3 separate regions of the Homo sapiens genome follow, and all the other regions are linked to region 1. Evidence: fine-mapped expression QTL. A gene starts in region 1. Each other region holds a variant in brackets. All regions are shown on one strand. Distances are between the middles of the regions.

Region 1 (6,161 bases):
GATTACAGGCGCCCACCACCATGCCCAACTAATTTTTGTATTTTTAGTTGAGACAGTGTTTCCCTATGTTGGCCAGGCTGGTCTTGAACTCCTGACCTCAGGTGATCTGCCCACCTCGGCCTCCCAAAGTGCTGGGATTACAGGCGTGAGTTACTGCACCCGGCCAGCCGCTACATTTTTGATAGGTTTGTTCAGCAGCGATTGAAAACCAGGACGCATTACTATAACCACTATCCCCATTTTACAAATGAGGAAACTGGCACAAAGAGACTCAAGTGACTTGCCCAAGGACACACAGTTAGTAAGCAGACGTGCTGGGATGTGACTCCAGGGAATTTGGGTGCACAGTATCTGCATGCCAACCCTTGAACTCTGCAGATGAGAAAACTGCAAGCCACAGAAGAGATCAGACTGGGCTTTAGTCTAAGGGCAGGACAGTTCACACTCAGACCTCTATTTCTAGGTTGAGATTGTTGTCTCCTCCAGTGGGTAAACTGAGGCCCCACCTGAGAAGAGTATTAGGTTCACAAGATGGAGACTGTTCCAAGCTGTGTGGCCTTGAATAAGTTCCTTAAAACTGTGTTTCAACTTCCTTGTCCAAAAAACTCCTACACGAGGGACTCGCGAAGTAATCCAGCACGGTGCGTAGCAGGCAGTTAGTGAATCAAAGGCCATTAAGCATGGGGAAATCTAGCTCCCAGCTGACCTCTGATCACACCATACCCCCACCTGGGGAACTGCTGGCTCTGGCTAGGAAAGCATGTGTGGAGGGGAGGTCAGGGAGAGCTCCCCACCCCAGCACCCCACACCTCTACCTCAGCCCTCAGGCACCTGCGTCCCCGATCCTGAGAGGGTCACAGGCTGGCAAGATTTCCTCCAGGCTTCGCTGGACAGCTTGTTCTTCAGGGAGTTCAGGTACCTCCTGCTGACTGTCCTGGGCTCAGACCCCACGGCCTCCCCGACATTCGTCTTCTCCCGTGGTCCTGGGGACTCGGGAGGCCTGCACTCAGGGCGGTGATGCACGTCCTCTAGCCTCTGGCCTCTGGGTGCTGCTTCTGGGGTCCTGAGGAGAAGAGACAGACCTGAGGGCTTCCTCCCTGGAGAACAGGGAAAACAGCAGCAAGTCCCTGGTGTGGATTTGGGTTGCCTGGTGCAAATCCCCAGTGCAGGGGCCCCTGGGTGCCTGGCTTTCTTTGGGAACATGCTGAGTAAGACTTTCACTTCTCTCCCAACACATTCTTGGAGGGAACTCAGTGTTCAAAATGAGTCAGGGTGGACTATATTTTATTTTCTGGGGAACTGCATACTTCCTTGTTTAAAATGAAGCCACAGTGTCCAGGAATCCTTTCTGTATATAGGGGTTTTTGAGTGGTACCCCCTGGATTATCCTCACCTTTGGACCTCACCTCTGTTTTCAGTTTCCACATCAGTAACCTATACATCAAGGGAAGGTAGGAGCCACAGAACAATATAAAGTGAGAGCAGGCCTGCAAAAGCTGGGGCTTCTCAATGGGATCGACATCCTCCACACGTCCAGAAGCAGGGAGAGCCAGCCCAGCAGCAGATGCTCTGTTCTCCCAGGGACGGGCCTTCGTAGGTCACCTTTATTACCCTGTGTACTGGGTTCTGCAAGCCAGTCAAATTCCTTAGACAACAGGGCCCACCCTTGATGAATACACCCAACGTTGCCCTTGGTGTGGAAGGGCTTGTGATGACAGAACAGGGCAGGCATCCTTATGAGAAAGACAGGCCAGGAAATGGAAGGCCAAACAAATACGAAATCTCCAAAACTCCGTGAGAAAGGTTTTCATTACCCATATTTTGCACTCAAGGAAACTGAGGTCTGGACAGGATGAGTAACATGCGGCTCGGAAGTGGCAGAGGTGGGATTCAAATCAGGCGACTGCTTCCTGAGCCTTCACTCTAACCTGCCCCTCCCCATTTGAGTAAAGGAGAAACAGGTCCGCGGAGTCAAAGTGACTTGCCCCAAGTGACACAATTGGGTTTGTGGCAGCGAAAGCATTGGGACCTAGTGCTGTGTGGCTACTCCCAGGCTCTCCCACCCCTCCCTGGCACCCCAGTCCCTGGTTTCTCAGCCCATGGGTCTGCAGCTCATGGGCGTAGCTGGTTCTCAGGCTTTCTGTTCTACATTTGGTTTCAGGTTCTGCATTTCTGTTCTAGGGCCCCTGGCCAGCTTCTGTTTCCTCTTTGCCCCTCAGTTTCAGATCAGCTGAGGTGCTGGAGACCTCATAAGGAAGCCCAGGCCAAGGCAGTTGGTATGGGTCCCCTCACTCAGTAAGGAGTGGCTCTCACCCTCTTGATGCCTGCTGGGACCTAACTCCCGTCTAAGGGCTGCCCACTCCTGCCAGGGTTATTGCCTGGGCAGAGCACAGCATGCTGAGGGGCTCCACCCAGGTGTGCCTAGTCCACGTCAAGCATGTTGAGTGAGGTGGTACCATCCACCCACACCCAAGGGGGTGGTGGGCCAGGAAGGCGGCACCCAAGAGCTGTCTTTGGTGCTGAACAGGACGAGCTTGGCAAAGATCCCGGGAGAGGCAGGGGAGAATCACCCAGCTCAGGAAGTTGAAGACTTCTAGGTCTACATCTATGCCATCTCCACCCTGAAGCCTACAGGAAACATTGCCTGCCATGAGTGCCCTCAATACAGCATCCGGGCCATTCCTAGGACATCTACTGTCTATGACCTTGCATCATAGTTATTCGATGAGCTCAGCATCCAAATACTGAAACCCTTCTTCATCCTCTACAGTTCCTGTAGGATGCTGTGCTGTGCCACCCATGTCCCTCCTTCAGGAATGAGGCCTCCCCACACCATCCCCACCAGCTACTGGTAGTACTGGGGGCTGCCGGGTAATTTATTGGCTGAGTCCCTCTCTGGGAATCACTCTCTGGAAGAGAGAGCTGCCTCACCCAGAGTCTCTTGTCCAGTCCACATGGAGATACAAATACCCAGCCCTCTTCCTCAGCTGGAACAACCGAGAGGCATCCCAGCTCCAGAGCTCCCTGGGACAGGCTGAGGCCTCTGTGGCAGGTGCACTGCAGTTCAGCATCTCCCCCTGCCCGGCCCTGCTTCCCTCACACCCACAGCTGTTGTTCCCAAAAGCTCTCCCTGATAAATCACCTGAGGCAAACCTCTGTCTGAGTCTATTTCCAGAAAACCCTACCTGGGACAGCCCCTAACACAGTCCTGAGCTTAAGAAATGCCTGCAGAATGGATTGATGCCACACATAACACACAACACACACATACACACACGCGCACACACACAAACACACATGCTCCCAGGGCTACCAATGACTCCACGCATCTGGCCCAGCCTTTTCCCTCCAGACAGACGCCCCAGCATTGCCCCAGATACTTAAAGCACTTGGCATCCTCACCTCTCTGTGTCTCCATTTCCTCATCTATAAGACGGGAACAGAAACAGAATCTACCCCTATTAGGCTGTTCGATGACTAAATTAAATAAGTAAGGACATGAACTTAGAGTAGGGAGTACCCCATCAGGATGCTGCCCGTACATCCTGGTTTGCCTCATACGGTCCCAGCTTTACCTGTAATGCCTCCCCCACAACCACCACATTTTATTTGGCATTTACTTTCAGTTTCAATTGTGTGCTGAATGATAAATTATATGGTTATCCTAATCATAGGGCGTAAATTCTTGGTGAGTATCAGCTACCTTTTCTGAGAGGTGCTGGCAGGCACTGGGTGGGGTCCTGTGCCCACACACAGGCTTTGGTCTGCCCATGCTTGCTCGTAACCACACCTGTCTGGACTCTCCCAACACACACTGGCACTCTCACCCCTGCCTGGCTCCTGGTGTCCCACCGACACTCTCCCATGCTCCAAGGAATCCGTGACCGAGGAACGCGGGGCTGCCCCTGCAGGAGGAGGGTCCGGGGCAGGGCCCAGGGAGAGAGCTGCCAGAAAGGCTGGAGGGTGGCTGCCAGCCCACCATGGTGACCCTCCCACCCCAGCTGCCCATACCTGCTATTCTCAAACACAGTGACCAGGTTGGACACAGATGCCAGCTTCTCCTCACTTGCCCCCTTCATCCTGCCGGTTTCCGGGGTGGATCTCAGCTACCCTCGAAGCAGAGAGAGAGGCCTCCAGCCAGCACACTCAGCCACGCTGGCCTGGGACAGATAGGCTAAATCACCCATGAATCTGTTCTGATCTTTCTTGAGGGCTCAGAAGGTCGGCTCTTGGCTTCAGAGTGAAGAAAGAGGAAGTGGTCCCAGAGCCACAGCCCTGCAGGGGAAAGGCCAGCACTCCCGCAGTGGGAGGAGCCTGCTCGGGCCCCACCTCTCCCTCAGGGGGGCTGACCTTTCACACCTGTAGACCCCCATTCCAGAAGCCACCTAAGAGGTGGCAACAGGGCCCAGAGGTAGCTTCTGGAGCCCAGTCTGGGCTGGTGCAGTGGTTTGCACCTCTAATTCCAGTGCTTTGGGAGGCCGAAGCAGGAGGATTGCTTGAGCCCAGGAGTTCAAGACCAACCTGGGCAACATAGTGAGACACCGTCTCTTAAAAAAAAAAAAAAAAAAAAAGGCCACCCGGAGCCAGACCCTTGGCTGGTTTCTTGGCCTAGTGGTTCCAGCCAACCACACTTTCTCCTTCAGAAGGTCCAGTGGCTTTTACTTGGCCTCTTTCCCAGCACCTTCTTTTCTGCATCTGCCCCTGCTCACAGCTGTAAGGAAATAATGTCTTTTTTATTCTTTAGAGACAGAGTGCGGTGGTGGGATCTCGGCTCACTGCACCCTCTGCCTCCCGGTTCAAGCGATTCTCCTGCCTCAGCCTCCTGAGTAGCCGGGATTACAGGGCCTGCCACCACGCCCTGCTAATTATTTGTATTTTTAGTAGAGATGGGGTTTCACCATGTTGCTCAGGCTGGTCTTGAACTCCTGGCCTCAGGTGATCCTCCTGCCTCGGCCTCCCAAAATTCTGGGATTACAGATGTGAGCCACTGTGCCTGGCCAGGAAACAGCATGTTTTATTTAAAATAATCACAAACCTGGTAAGGGTGGCAGGGAGTACTGTGATGTTCCCACCTCCCCACTGGGGTTCTCTCATTTTAGTTGTTGCTGTCATCACCTCATTGCCCCAAGGGAGGGCAGTTTCCTCCCTGAAACTCAGAGGATAATAATAGCTAACATGCACTCTTTTTCATGCTTATGAGTATTTTCTTATTAATCCTATAACAACCTCATGAGGTAGGTACTATTCCTATCCCCACTTTACATAGGAAGAAACAGAATCAGAGAGGTTAAGTAACTTGCCCAAGGTCACCCAGGAAGAATACAAGAGAAGTTGGATTTCCAAAGCAAAAGTGGGTGTCCTACAGTTCCAGCAAAGGTTCGTTGGGAGCCTGGATGACCATGTTCTTGCTGCTCCATCCCCAGGCCTCCCTGATCCCAGGACACTGGGTTGTCTTTGCCTGAGGCCTCCTTTACCACCTGGTCTCCCGGCCCTTACAGAACAAATGGACGCTGCCTCTGTTCCCCTCCTTCAAGCCCCACAGGCCGTTCAGGGCCCTCCCACTGGGCTCTGGTCCCACCAGGGCTCTCCACTGAACCTGGTCTGTGTCCTGGAGTGCAGGGCCTGAGCCTCGGTGCTCTTGGTACGTGAAGTGCCTGGAACAGCTTCACGCTCCAGTAACTGTGAACCCCTGGGGCCTCACATGCCCAACAGCCGCCCTCACCCCAAGCCTCGTCTGAGTGGTTTCTCCCACCAGATGCCGGGCCCCCTGCCCCAAACCCTAAGTCTCACAAACCTCCATTTTTGTTTTTTACTTTTTATTATGGAGAATTTAGAACATATGCAAAACTAGACAGAATCATATAATGCATCCCATGAACCCCTAATCCAGACCATAACAAACCTCAGCTCACAGCCAGTCCCCTGTCCCTGCTGCAGCCACATCGACTCTGCCTTCTCATGTCATTTTGAAGAAAATCCCAGATGTCAGATGACATTACCCATAAACATTTTAGTGTGTATCTAGAAGATGAGAACTCTCTCTCTCTTTTTTTTTTTTTTTGAGACTGAGTCTTACTCTGTCACCCAGGCTGGAGTGCAGTGCTGCAATCTCGGATCACTGCAATCTTCACCCCACTGGGTTCAAGCGATTCTCCTGCCTC
Region 2 (7,509 bases), 22 kb before region 1:
ACTAAAAATACAAAAAAATTAGCCCAGCGCAGTGGCGGGCGCCTGTAGTCTCAGCTACTCAGGAGGCTGAGGCAGGAGAATGGCATGGACCCGGGAGGCGGAGCTTGCCACTCGCACCACTGCACTCCAGCCTGGGTGACAGAGCGAGACTCCGTCTAAAGAAAAAAAAAAAGAAAGAAAGAAACAAAATAGATAAAACGATTTGTATTATGTGAAGCAGAGTCAGGGGCAGAGTTGCCAGGAGCACTACGTGAGGCAGGTGGACAAGGAAGCCTGTCCGAGGGCCAATGAGGCAGAGACTGGAGAGAAGTGAGGGAGTGCATCGGGCGGATTTCTGGAGGAACAGCATCCAGGCTGAACGAGCAGCAGGTGCAAGAGTCCTGAGGTGGAAGTGTGCTGAGGGAGGGAGGTGAGATGGGGCAAGGGAAGGGGGAACTCTGAGAAGCAGCCAGGGGTCATCCCAAAGGGCCTGGTGGAGCACACGGAGGGAGGCATTAGATGGGCTTCTAACCCCATGCTACTGGAGGGCTGGGAGCTGAAAACTAGCTCAGCTTTCAGATTTGAAAGAATCTGTGTGAAGATGCCAGAGGACAAGTGTGGGAGCAGGAAGGGCAGGTGGGAAGCTCTAGCAATCACCCCCAGAGATATCACAGTGGCCGGGCCAAGTGACAGCATGTGAGGGGTATGAGGTGTGAGGACGGGCTCTGTTCGCAGTATATCCTGAAGGTAGAAGCAACCAGGCTTGCGGCCAGAACAAATGGTCCCAGGAAAGCAGAAACGTCCATGAAGAGCATAGCTAGTAACAACTCCCAGCCAGCGAGCTCCGTCTGTGGGCTAGGAGCTTTCCCTGAATTATCTCACTTGGTTTTCACACCAAATCCTACAAAGAGGCACTGCTTGTCAAGTTACAATGAATACATGGAGGCTCAAGAGGTTGGGTGATATCCCCAAGACCCTATGTCAAGCCTTCAACAGAACTGGAATTTGAGCTTTTCAGGCTATCAAGGGGGTGCCCTTTGCATGATATCAGCTGCCCCTGAGATTTGGAAAGTAGTAGCATATTACCTTGCCAGGCGTGGTGGCTCACACCTGTAATCCCAGCACTTTGGGAGGCCAAGGCAGGTGGGTCACCTGAGGTCAGGAGTTTGAGACCAGCCTGGCCAACATGGTGAAACCCCGTCTCTACTAAAAATACAAAATTAGCTGGGCGTGGTGGTGCATACCTGTAATGTCAGCTACTTGGGAGGCTGAGGCAGGAGAATCGCTTGAACCTGGGAGGCAGAGGTTGCAGTGAGCGGAGATCGTGCCACTGCACTTCAGTCTGGACAACAAGAGCAAAACTCCATCTCAAAAAAAAAAAAAAAAGAAAAGAAAAAGTAGTATAAGTAGTATACTACCTGGCACGTATTAGGTACACATAGTAGGTAATAATCATTTGCAAAATACCTACTTTTTTTTCATTTTGAGACAGGGTCTCAGTCTGTCACCCATGCTGGAGTGCAGTGGTACAATCATAGCTCATTACAGACTCAAACTCCTGGGCTCAAGCGATCCTCCTGCCTTGACCTCCCAAAGTGCTGGGATTACAGATGTGAGCCTGTATGCATTTCTTTGTATCATAAACATTTAAAAGGTCATGAGCCCTATACATTCACCAGAATGTCTAAAATTATTAATTTTAAAAAAACAAACTTCAAACCTGACTATACCAAATGCATGAGCAGGGGAAATGTCATACATTGCTGGTAGGAATGCAGAATGGTACAACCAATATGGAAAACAGCTTGGTAGTTTCTGATAAAGTTAGACACTTACTCAGTGACCCAATTTTAGGTATTTACCTAAGAGAAAAGAAAACGTGCTCACACAAACACTGAACATGAACGTTTATAGTTCATAGGAGTATTATTCATAATTGCCCCAAACTGGAAATAACCCAAGTATACTTAACCTGGTAAACAGATGAACAACTGTGGTATGCCCATGCAATGGAATACTACTCAGCAATGAAAAAGGAATGAACTACTGACATGGAGAACAAAATGGATGAATCTCAAATATATAATGCTGAGTAAAGGAAGCCAGGCTTAAAAAGCTATGGTTCCATTTAAATGACATCTGGAAAAGGCAAAATTATCAGTCAGAAACAGATCAATGGTTACCAGAGGCAAGGAGTAGGGGTGTGGGTTGACTACAAAGGGTGGCATGGGGACACTTATAGGGGGATTGTGGTGGTAGCTGTATGACTGTACTCTTCTGCCAAAACTTAGAAAATATACTAATAAGGGTGGATTTTACAGTCTGTAAATTACACCTCAGTAAACCTAACAATGACAGCACAAAGGTTGTGTGCCCTCGCTTCCCTCTCCTGACGGCTACCTCATTTTGCTCCACAGTGAAGCCACTCTCCATACTCCCACTCAGATTAAACCCCTGGAAAAGCTTAGGTATCAGTGCTGCAGAATCGACTCTGCTGTCACCGAGCCAGCTGCCTTCAGCATCATTGGCGAGTTTTAAAATGCTGATGCAGGCCAGGTGCAGTGGCTCATGCCTGTAATCCCAGTACTTTGGGAGGCTGAGATGGGTGGATCACCGGAGTTCAGGAGTTTGAGACCAGCCTGGCCAATATGGTGAAACCCCGTCTCTACTAAAAATACAAAAATTAGCCGGGCATGGTGGCGCACGCCTGTAATCCCAGCTACTTGGAAGGTTGAGGTAGGAGAATCACTTGAACCTGGGAGGCAGAGGTTGCAGTGAGCCAAGATGGCGTCACTGCACTCCAGCCTGGGTGACAGAGTGACAGACTCCATCTCAAAAATAAAAATAAAAATAAAAAATAAATAAAATGCTGATGCTGTCCGGGCATGGTGGCTCATGCCTATAATGCCAACACTTTAGGAGGCCAAGGCAGGAGGATTGCTTGAGCTCAGGAGTTTGAGGTCAGTCTGGGCAATATAGTGAGACCCCATCTCTACAAAAATTTTAAAAATTAGCTGGATGTGGTGGCGTGCACCTGTGCTTCTAGATACTCAGGAGGCTGAGGAAGGAGGATAGCTTAAACCCAGAAGGTCAAGGTTCCAGTGGGCTCTGATCACACCACTGCACTCCAGCCTGGATGACAGAGCAAAACCCTGTCTCAAATAAACAAACAAACACCCTACAGGAGGGAAGTGGCCTCAGGTTGGAGGCAGGCAAAGCTGCTGGGCCTGTGATGGGACAAAAACCTGTGACTCATCCATGCTTCCTCCTTTCAGGGCAGAGCCCAGCAATGGCTGGACCTGCTGAGAGCAGCTGAGGGTGTTCTGGCCACTGCTGGGGCCACTGCATGTGGCCTGCTGACCACTGCCACCCCCTGGTGGTCTCTTATGAAAAAGCATCCTCACCCACCAGCGAGGTGGGGATGAGGGGACAGGGATGCTCCTCCCGTCACCCTTCCTCCCACCATTCACCTTTCTCTCTTGTCTTCCCAGCTTCTTCACTCTCTTTCCCTCTCTTTTGCTTCTCCTCACTCTCCTCCCCTCTCTGCTTGTCTTATTGTTCTGCTCCATGATAGAAAGAGCTTTGACCTTAGTTCACCGGGTTAAAACCTGGCTCTGGCATCTACGAGCTACATGACCAATTGAGCCAATTACTAAACCTCTCTGAGTCGGTGTCTTCATCTGGAAATGGGGATAACTCTGGATGGTAAAATGACATAATCCACATAAAACACCTTGCACAGAGCCTGG[T/C]CCAATAGATGTTTATTATTATTATTACTACTATCATGACTGGCACTTGACAGGGGCTCAACCATTGGTTGTGGTAGTTTGCTCTCTTTATTCTTCATCCCAGGTAACCCAGGCTATATATTAGACTCCAGTGGGTACTCTTAAAAAATATGCATGCGCCAGGTATGGTGGCTCACGCCTGTAATCCCAGCACTTTGGGAGGTGGAGGTGGGAGCATCGCTTGAGGCTGGGAGTTTGAGACCAGCCTGAGTAACATGGTGAAATCCCATCTCTACAAAAAATAAAAAAATTAGCTTGGCACAGTGGCACACACCTATAATCCCAGCTACTTGGGAGGCTGAGGCGGGAGGATCACTGGAGCCCGGGAGAGCGAGGCTGTAGTGAGCCATGTTTGTGCACTCCAGCCTGGGAAACAGAGTAAGACTCTGTCTCAAAAAAAAAAAAAAAAAGACCCCATGCCTCCCCCAACTCAGCCCATTTAAATCGGTGGTGGTACTTCAGTACAGGCATTGTTTTTTACATTTTTAAAATTAATTTACTATGTGTTTTTCACCAGTACTCTTTAAAAGCTCCCCAGGAGATACAAATGAAAAACCATACTATGGTGACCACCAGTCCGGGGTTACCTGGGGCTTTCCCAGTTTTAGCACTGGAAGTCCCATGGCCCAGGAGCCCCCTCCCCGCAAGGCAAACTGAGACACTTGGTTGTCCCCTTTCTAGAAAGGAATGGACCCATATTTTCTAATCCCAGATCGGGACACGTGGCCTGGGCGCAGATGGCTGAATCAATTCTCTGAAAGCACCACTTGGGGCAGTGGGTCACTGAGGCCACAGGGTCAGTCTGTGGCAGGAGCTGGGTTCAGGGTGGGGAGAGGTGGGCAGGAGAGCGGCTGGCAGTGGCTCAGTCGGACAGGTCCCCATCGTTGGGCCAGCTGGGGCTCCAGCCACTGGCCGCCCGCTCCATGGCCTTCACCCAGCGGCCCTTCAGCTCCTCCGTCTCGGCCTTGAAGGTGTAGAGCTGGCCTGACTGCTGTAGCTGGAAGACCCGAGGGTCCCCCTGGGGCCCAACAGTCACCTGGTAGCCCAGCAGGGGGATGGAGGTGTGAGCCCTCATGTCCTGGGGGGAGGAGAGAGCAGTGGGCCACTGTCCCCTCTCAGTCCTACTGCCCCAGATAGCCATCGTGAAGGCAACAGCCACGCACGCACAGCTCACACCCTAAACCCCCATGGGTTGGGGGTGGGCTGGTGAAGGCCATCGAGGAAGAGGACAGAAGAACTGGCTGCCTCTGAGGGCAAAGCAGTGGTGACCTAGAGTCAGGGCACAATTCTGAAACCTACCAACCTTGAGACTCCAGGATACCATATCCTCATTGGGCCTCAGTTTCCCTATCTGACATATGGAGCTAGCAATACTCACCCCTGACCCCCTTCACACACACGCTGTGGGAAGGCCAGGGCCTGACGGGGGGCGGGCAGGTGGTGGCCTTACCTGAGGGGCAGCATAGACATAGAGCACGAGGGGGTCATCCCGAGGGATCACACACCAGCCCCGGGGGCCGCTCTTGCCCCACTTGTCCCCGATGAGCTGCAGGAAGCTGCACATCAGGCTCTGGTCAGGCGTGGCTGAGGACCCTTTCTAAAACCAGAAGGAGGGACTGTCAGGGAGCAGAGCAGCCGCAAGTGCCAGATGTTGGTCTGGGGGCTTGACAATCACTATCTCCAATCCTTACAGCAGTACTGAATGGAGGGGTCCTTGGTCCTTGAGGCTCAGAGAGGTCCCATCAAGTGCCTGTGGTCACACAGCTAGCTGGCCAGTGGCAGAGCTGCAGTCAAACCCCAGCCTGCCTGAACCTGTCGCGTGTGTGCCCACAAGGGGCAGGTGCCGGGAGGGTGCCTGGAGCTGCTCCAGGAAACAGAATTGGGCCCTGAGAAGGGGCTGAGCATCTCCAGGGGCAGGCTGTGTTGCCTAGTGGTCAGGGGGTCCTGGGCCTGGAAGGATGGGGAGGATTGGAAACGGGGTGGATGCCCGTGGAAAAAGGCCAACTTTTTTTTTTTTTTCAGATAGTTTCTCTCTTGTTGCTCAGGCTGGAGTGCAATGGTGCAATCTCAACACATTGCAACCTCCACCTCCCGGGTTCAAGAGATTCTCCTGCCTCAGCATCCCGAGTAGCTGGGATTACAGGCATGCACCACCATGCCCGGCTGATTTTTTTTTTTTTGTATTTTTAGTAGAGACGGGACTTCACCATGTGGGCCAGGCTGGTCTCGAACTCCTGACCGCACGTGATCCATCCACCTTGGCCTCCCAAAGTGCTGGGATTACAGGCATGAGCCTTCCCGCCTGGCCAAAAGAGGCCAACTTGAACCTGGGAGTGAATCTCAGCTGGCACAGGCTGGGACCTTCTCCCACCTCCCAGGGACGGTGGGATGTCAACCTGGCCTTCGTGAGGGAGGGGCAGTGGACAGTGGTATTGATGCTGAGCTGGTTGACATTGTATTTGTGCTGCCTAGCTGAGCACAGTTGTACCCCCACAGGGGAGCACCTGTGGGGGCAAGTGTGGCTCAGTGAGGCCCCCAGGGCAACAGAAAGAACATCTGTGACTGAGATCAGAGAGCTGGCTCCTAACTTGCTGTGTGATCTTGGGCAAGTCACTCCTCCAGCCCTGGGTCTCCATGGGATAAGACCGACTGGCCCCTGGAGTCCCTTCCAGTTAGAATGGAGTCTCCAATCTGTCTGACCTGGAGCGTCAGTGTTCCCATCTGTAAAATGGAAGCGGTGACACCAGCTCTTGGCACCCTGGGACTGTCGGGGCAGGACATGGGGACGTGAACATGAGCTGTCCAGAGGGGCCGTACTATCGGATGGGGACATAGAGGAAGTGCAGAAGAATGTGGACGACAGCCTGCAGCCAAAGGGTGCCTCCATTTGGTGACAGGCTCCACACTGCCTGGGCTGTGGCGAGAGGCCTGGGGTCTGTGGGCAGAGAGAGGAAGAGGGAGAGGGGGGAGGGTGTGACCATGGCTGGCTTGTTCCTCAGCACTGGACAGTGTCAGCCCAGCATGGTTGCCGGGCACACATTCCCTGAACAGAGGACGGATGGTGAGCGCGGGGACAGTGGCCCTCACCTCCAGGATGCCCCGCCTCTTGTCCTCCTTGGCCTCAGGCAGCACATTTCCAGTGAGGAATGCGTAGCAGTGGAGGCAGACTCGGTTGGGCCTGTTGTCGTCGTATTTCAGTTCGGCCCGGTAGTCGGAGCACCTGGCACACACCACCTGAGGAGGACACATAAGGGGGCATGGGGCTGAGACCAGGCACCGGAGGGCTGGGCTCCTGCCTTGGTGGGCAGGTGGGGGCATGAGAGCAACCAGGGACTGGGGGAGGAAAAGAAAGCTTCGAGGGAGGAATAGAGGCAGAGCGGGGATGCTCCCCCATGCTGGTGAGGCCCAACTGCCTGGAGGCTGCGACACATGGGGGAGCTCGGGCTCGGGGCTCTTAGGCTGAGGGTTCAAGACCCGGCCCCCACCGCGAGGGCCGTAACTTCTCTCCCCTCCAGGTTCCCTCCGAGTGAGGGCTGCTGTGAACCCAAGGGGCTTGCCCCAGACGGGCCACTGGCATCTGATTCACTTTTCCAAATGCTGTCCTCTCCGCCATCTCACCTGACTCTCCCAAAGACCCCACCAGGCAAGCAGGGCCCAGCTTTTGTCCTCTCCTGACCCTGAGAGCCACACTGTTACCTGGCAGACAGGCCCTCCACACACAGGGTGTGTCTTTCAAGTCCCA
Region 3 (7,509 bases), 37 kb before region 1:
TAGGAGTGTCAGACAGACGAAAGCAGGTCCCAAAAGGTCCCTGCAGAGGTGACTGGTGAGACCAGACAGAGCCTCAGAGCCAGGCTGCAGCTCTGCACGGGGACCTGAGGACCCACCAGGAGCTGAGACCCGGGCTCTCCAGGCTCGTGGGATGGTGGGATTGCTTCTGCCTGCTGGGAAGGCCAGGGTGCAAACCTGCAGCCTGCAGTGGAGGTGCCTGGGGGCTGGAGGTGCCCAAAGTCCCCATAACTGCCATCAGCTCTATACCTCAGAGGCACCACTAGAAAATGTCTTTGTTTTGGACAATGGACATTTTCTCAGTCTTATATGAAGTATACATTAAAAAGTGTCTTCAGGGCCAGGCATGGTGGCTCACACCCGTAATCCTAGCACTTTGGGAGGCCAAGGTGCGCGGATTGCCTGAGCTCAGGAGTTCGAAACCAGCCTGGGCAACATGGTGAAACCTTGTCTCTACTAAAATACAAAAAATTAGCTGGACGTGGAAGCGAAGTGAATCCCAGCTACTCAGGAGGCTGAGGCAGGAAAATTGCTTGAACCTGGGAGATGGAGGTTGCAGTGAGCCGAGATCGCGCCACTGCACTCCACCCTGGGTAAAAGAGCGAGACTCCGTTTCAAAAAAAAAAATGTCTTTAGTAAACATGACGTCTTCATAACAAAGTATCATAGACTGGGTGGTTTAAACACAGAAGTTTATTTTCTCACAGTTCTGAAAGCTGGAAGTCCAGGAGCACAGTGTCATCAGGGCAGGTTTCTGAAGCCTCTCTTTTTGGCCGGGAGCCGTCTTCTCTCTTTCTCTTCACATGGTCTTTCCTCTGCACATGTCTCTCCTCATTTCCTCTTCTGATTGGATCAGGGCCCATCCTCATGACCTTATTTTACCTGAATTACCTTTTTAAACATCCTGTCTTTAAATGCAATCACATTCTGAGGTACTTGGGGTTAGGACTTCAATATAGGAGTTTTGGGGACATAGAATTAAACTTGTAACACTTATGATTTTTTTTTTGAGATGGGGTCTTGCTGTGTTGTCCAGGCTGCAGTGCAGTGGCACCATCATAGCTCACTGCAGCCTCAAACTCCTGGGCTCAAACCATCCTCCCACCTCAGCCTCCACAGTAGTTGAGAGTACAGGCACAAGCCACCACACCTGGCTAGCTTAAAAAGAATGTTTTAGAGAGGGGGTCTCACTATATTGCCCAGGCTGATCTCGAATTCCTAACCTCAAGTAATCCTCCTACCCTCAAGTGATCCTCCTGCCTCAGCCTTCCAAAGTGCTGAGATGACAGGTGTGAGCCACTGCACCCAGCTGGCCCCAGCCCACTTTTTAAGCTATGATGTAAGTACAAACAGTGGGCTGGCTTTGGAAGTGCAGATTGTATACTGGTCCCAAGATCATCCTATGCAAATTCTGGCGCCTCCCATGCCTACTAGTTTTGATTAGAGGTAGTTTAGGGACACAGCCTGCACTCAGGATGTCCCCTCTGGACATGGCCACCACTGGCCAGCTGGACTGGGAGGGGGTCAGTGTTGTCACCAACATGATAGGACTTCTTAGAACAGGCCTGGCAGCTCTCTCTAACCAACGATGTATGTCTGGTAATCTTTGACTTTGAAAACTCTGTTCTCTTTAAAAACAAAGTTTCAAATTCTGTATCTGGAGCTGCTATTTATAGAATCATCTAGGAATCCTTCACAAAAAAAGGAGACAAATTTGTAGCATTTGTGTTTTTACAAAGTAGCACATTTATTGTTGAAAAACACAGGTGAAAGAGAAGAAAACAAAATCAACAGTAATTGGACCTCCCAGAGATCAGTGTTAACATTTTGGTTTCTGTATCTATCTTCATCTCTCCCTGTGTTTTAATCTACATCTCAATCTACACTTATATAATTCAATTGACTTGAAAGATAAGATTACACGGTGCCATGTCATAACTTCTTATCAATTAGTATATCATGATCACTTCCCAGGGCATGGGATCGTTTTCTAAGAGGCCATTAAAGACGGTGGCCGAGTACGAGAATGGCATAAGCTATTCAACAAATTTCCTATTGTTGAATAATTGGGTTGTTTTACCTTTTTCACAATATCAAATGAAGCTGTGATAACATCCTTTAAGCTAAATCTTTGCCATGATCATTTACTAAGGATAAATTCGTAGAAGCGAAACTTCTGAGTTAAAGACAAAGCATTATTTTATTTTATTTTTTTAAGTTTAAGTTATTTATTTAAGCCATCTCCCGCCACAAGCAAAGGGATGGGAGACCAGTATACCAGTCATCATTTGATACAAGTAAAGAAGGTGAGCTTAAGGTCCCATATACTTTTTCTGGTCCATGTGCAGAGTAATGGTCCAAACCAGTGCTGTGGTCCCTGGTGCCCGGGTAGTGGTCCAGATTCTCTTTATTCATCTTCGTAGCCAGTTGGAAGTGGATTCACATGAGGGTTATGGAATAGAGTATGGTTACCATCTCCCCAGGGAAACGGCTTGGTCCTGATGCGGAGATGGGGGTAGGCGATGAACTCGGGTCTCTCGTGCTCTCCGTGGTGCGACTTCAGGTACACATTCAGCATGCTGACTGCCACCCCGGGGAGCGCGACGAAGAAGGTGAGGGTCTTCCACATGCGAGCTGAGCCCTCTTCTCCATGGGCGCCACTCGACATAGGCCGCCCCAGCTGTGGGCGGGACCGACCCAGCAGCCGAGAAACCGAGAACACACCAACTGCCGCCATTTTTGATCTGGACTGCCGCAGCGCCGCAAAGCATTATTTTAAAATGTTCAACTTTATTTACTTTTGAATAGATAATATATATGGTGTATATATACACATTACAAAATATATGTGTATTATCTCTATGCATATGTACATATATCTCTATGTGTGTGTATATATATAAAATATATAAATATATATAATATATAAATATATATAAAATATACATATATAAAATATATAAATATATAATATATATACATAAAATATATATAAATATATATAATATATATACATAAAATATATAAAATATATATAATATATATACATAA[T/AATAT]ATATAAATATATATAATATATATACATAAAATATATATAAATATATATAATATATACATAAAAATATATAAATATATATAATATATATACATAAAAATATATAAATATATATAATATATATACATAAAAATATATAAATATATATATAATATATATACATAAAAAATATATAAATATATATATATTATATATATATATATTCAGAGACAGGGTCTTGTTCTGTCGCCCAGGCTGGAGTGCAGTGGTGCAATTGTAGCTCACTGCAATTCAAACTCCTGGGCTTCAGTGATCCCCCTGCCTCAGTCTCCCAAGTAGCTGGGACTATAGGCATGTGCCACTATGACAGGCTGCTTTGTTTGTTTTGTTTTGTTTTAATTTTTATTAGAAACGAGGTCTCTCTATGTTGCCCAGGCTGGAGTGCAGTGATGTTATCATAGCTCACTGCAACCTTGAACTCCTGGGGTCCAGTGATTCTCCTGCCTCAGCCTCCCCAGCAGCTGTGACTACAGGCACACATGCCACAACATCCAGTTAATTTTTGTCTTTTTCATAGAGATGAGGTCTTGCTATGTTTCCCAGGCTGATTTCGAACTCTTGGCCTCAAGTGATCCTCCTGCTTCAGCCTCCCCAAATGCTGGGATTACAGGCATAAGCCACTGTGCCTAGCTATTTTTTTTTTTTTTTCCACAAATGGTAGTTGCTATGGTTTGAATGTGTCCACCAAAGTTCATGTGTTGGAAACTCAATCTCCAATGCAACAGTGTTGGGAAGCAAGGCCTAATGAGAGGTGATTAGGTCATGAGGGCAGAGCCAGGATAATGCAATTACTGTGGGAATGGGTTAGTTATTTTAAGAATGGGCATATTATAAAAGTGAGTCTGGGGCCGGGCGCAGTGGATCATGCCTGTAATCCCAGCACTTTGGGAGGCCGAGGTGGGCGGATCACGAGGTCAGGAGATCAAGACCATCCTGGCTAACACAGCGAAACCCCATCTCTACTAAAAATACAAAAAAAAAATTAGCCGGGCGTGGTGGCACGTGCCTGTAATCCCAGCTACTCAGGAGGCTGAGGCAGGAGAATTGCTAGAACCCGGGAGGTGGAGGTTGCAGTGAGCTGAGATCGCACCACTGCACTCCAGCCTGGGTGACAAAGCGAGACTCTGTCCCAAAAAAGAAAGAAAAAAAGTGAGTCTGGCCCCCTTTTGCTCTCTTGCTCTTGCCCTCTCTTGCCCTTCCACTTTCTGCCATGGGATGATGCAGCACAAAGGCTGTCACCAGATGCCACCATCATGCTCTTGGATTTCCCAGCCTCCAGAACTATGAGCCAAATACATGTATTTTCTTTATAAATTACCCAGTCTGTGGTATTCTGTTATAGCAACACAAAATGAACTAAGACAGCAGTATCCTCTATACTATTCTGCACTTTGCATTTTTTCACTTAAGAAATTATCTTGTAGAGTTTTCCAAGTCAGTACTACATAATATTTTATTATATGCATTTACCATAATATATTTAAGTAGTCCCCTGTTGGATAGACGTAGTCCCTTATTGATGGTTACATATTAGTTATATATGACTGTATAACATATTATCCAGAAGTTCAGTGGCTTAGAAAAACAATAAAAAATTATTTTCTCATACAGTTTTTTGCTGGTAAGAAATTTGAGAAGGATTCATCTGGGCAGTGCTCACTTGGGGTCTTTCATGTGGCTGTAGTCAGATGCAAATTGAGGCTGAAGGTATCTGAAGGCTCAACTGGGACTAGAAGATCTACTTCTTTCTTTCTAAAAAAATTTATTATTACTGTTTTTGGAGATGAGGTCTTAGTATGTTGCTCAGGCTAGTCTCGAACTGGGCTCAAGCGATCCTCCCACCTCAGCCTCCTGAGTAGCTGGGACCACAGGTGTGTGCCACCAGGCCTAGCTAATTTTTCAATTTTTTGTAGCAATAGGAGTCTCACTGTTTTTCTCAGGCTGGTTTCAAACTCCTGGGCTCAAGCAATCCCCTACCTTGGCCTCTCAAAGTGCTGGGATTACAGGCATGAGCCACCATACTGGGCTCAAGAAAATCTATGTCTAGAGTTACTCACTCATACAGCTGGAAAGCTGGTGCTGGCTGTAGGTGGGGGCCTCAGTTCCTCTCTACATGGATCTCTCCACAGAGCTGCTCGAGTGTCCTCTGGAAGCTGTCCAGGAAGCTGAGGCAGAAGCTGTGATGCCTTTTATAACCGAGCCTTGGAAGCCACACACCTTTGCTTCCACTACATTCTATTGGTTATGGCAACTACAAAGGTTTGCCCAGGTTCAAGCAGAGGGAATTGACCCTACCTCTCAAAGGAGGATGCTAACATCGCATTATAAGAAGAGCATGGGAAATGGGATATATCAGTGCTTCCATCTTTAGAAAATACAGTCTGCCATAGGTTATTTCCAATATTTTGCTATTACCATATGTTAGTAAGTAGATTTTAAAGACTTTCTATATGTATTGCCAAATCTCCTTTAGAAAGTTGTACTAATTTAGATTCCAACCCCTGGTGATTGAGAAAGTCAATTTCTCTGTATCTTTACTAGCACTAAGTTTATCTTTTAATTAAAAATCTCTGCCAATTTGATATGCAAGAAATGGTATGTCATTGTTTTAAGAAAATTCCTTCTAAGAAAGCATAAGAGCTAAATTTGAGTAGCGGTATCTATATTAGTTTGCTAGTTTAGTTGCTATATTAGTTTCTGCCATAAGAAAATACCACAAACTGGGTCGCTTAAACAACAGAAATTTATTGTCTCATAGTTCTGGAGGCTGCAAGTCTAAGATCAAAGTATCACAGGTTTTTTTCTCCTGAGGCCTCTTTCCTTGACTTGCAGACGGCCGCCTTCTCACTGCTGCCTTTCCTCTGCACACGCATCCCTGATGTCTCTTCTTTTTCTTTTTTTTTCTTTTTTTAAGACAGAGTTTCACTCTTGTTGCCCAGGCTGGAGTGCAGTGGCACGATCTCAGCTCACTGCAACCTCCACTTCCTGGGTTCAAGTGATTCTCCTGCCTCAGCCTCCTGAGTAGCTGGGATTACAGGCGCCCACAACCACGCCCAGCTAATTTTTGTATTTTTAGTAAAGACAGGGTTTCACCATGTTGGCCAGTCTGGTCACAAACTCCTGACCTCAGGCAATCCTCCCGCCTTAGCCTCCCAAATTGCTGGGATTACAGGCGTGAGCCACCATACGCGGCCTGTCTCTTCTTTTACTTATGATACCAGTCATGTTGGATTAAGGCCCTTATGACCTCCTTTAATCTTAATTACCTCTTTAAAGGTCCTATCTCCAAATATAATCACACTGGGGACTAGGGCTTCATCATATAAGTTTTGGGGGGACACAGTTCAGTCTATAACAGCACCTTTACTGATTTGCTGAGTAATCTTGGGACAGCCACATATCTCTCTGAGCCTCAGTTTTCTTATCTGTTTAATGGAGAGATACCACATTTCCTTTTCCTCTTTCTCAATGGGTTGTCATGACAAATTAGATAGAACCTGTGGAGCTGAGCGTGGTGGCTCATGCCTGTAATCCTAGCACTTTTCAAGGCCGAGGCAGGCGGATTGCTTGAGCCCAGGAATTTGAGAACAGCCTGGGCAACATGGTGCAATCCCATCTCTACAAAAAATTTAAAAAATTAGCCAGTCATGGCCGGGCGTGGTGGCTCACGCCTGTAATCCCAGCACTTTGGGAGGCCGAGGCAAGTGGATCACTAGATAAGGAGATCGAGACCATCCTGGCTAACACAGTGAAACCCCGTCTCTACTAAAAAAATACAAACAAAAAAAAAATTAGCCAGGCGCAGTGGCGGGCGCCTGTAGTCCCAGCTACTCGGGAGGTTGAGGCAGGAGAAAGACGTGAACCCGGGAGGCGGAGCTTTCAGTGAGCCGAGATTGTGCCACTGCACTCCAGCCTGGGCGAAAGAGAGAGACTCCATCTCAAAACAAACAAACAAACAAAAATTACCCACGCATGGTGGCATGTTTCTGTGGTCCCAGCTACTCAGGAGACTGAGGTGGAAGGATTACTTGATCCCAGAGGGTTAAGGCTTCAGTGAGCCACGATCATGCCAGTATACTCCAGCCTGGGCTGCAGAGCAAGACCCTGCCTCAGAAAAATAAAAGGAACATGTGAAAGGGTTCTGGAGAATATAATTATTAACACATAAAATGCTTACAATTTGGGTCTCAATTCTGAGTTTGCACAACATGAGATACCCTTTGTTGACCTGAGTGGTACGCTGATAGTGTAGATGGATGTATCAGTTATGTAATGCTGTGTAACAAACCATCCCTAAACTTAGTGACTTAGAACAGCTGTTTATTATTCTTGCAATTCTGTGGGTTGGCTAGATGGTTCCTCTGCTGTTTTCATTCACACAGCAACAGTCTGCTAATGGCTTC

The links.
Region 2: its variant is fine-mapped to the expression of FGD2 in whole blood (TOPMed, PIP above 0.99). The same link has a PIP of 0.9 or more in lung.
Region 3: its variant is fine-mapped to the expression of FGD2 in monocytes (CEDAR, PIP 0.95). The same link has a PIP of 0.9 or more in B cells and monocytes after interferon gamma.

Annotation. Positions count from the first base shown.
Region 1 is chr6:37,003,736-37,009,896 of GRCh38, reverse strand. FGD2 (FYVE, RhoGEF and PH domain containing 2) reads right to left here and starts at 4,242. Exons shown (of 16, transcript NM_173558.4): 1 at 4,012-4,242; 2 at 832-1,063. The coding sequence starts at 4,079. RefSeq lists enhancers at 2,107-2,276, 4,097-4,226 and a silencer at 4,482-4,644.
Region 2 is chr6:37,025,284-37,032,792 of GRCh38, reverse strand. It overlaps FGD2 (FYVE, RhoGEF and PH domain containing 2), which reads right to left. Exons shown (of 16, transcript NM_173558.4): 14 at 6,855-7,001; 15 at 5,218-5,364; 16 at 3,724-4,845. The coding sequence ends at 4,630. Among named protein-coding and RNA genes, the nearest start is that of FGD2, 23 kb to the right of the region's middle. RefSeq lists enhancers at 3,071-3,150, 6,435-7,372, 7,084-7,509. The variant T/C (reference allele first, on the strand shown) is at 3,729.
Region 3 is chr6:37,040,106-37,047,614 of GRCh38, reverse strand. It overlaps the pseudogene COX6A1P2. Among named protein-coding and RNA genes, the nearest start is that of FGD2, 38 kb to the right of the region's middle. The variant T/AATAT (reference allele first, on the strand shown) is at 3,070.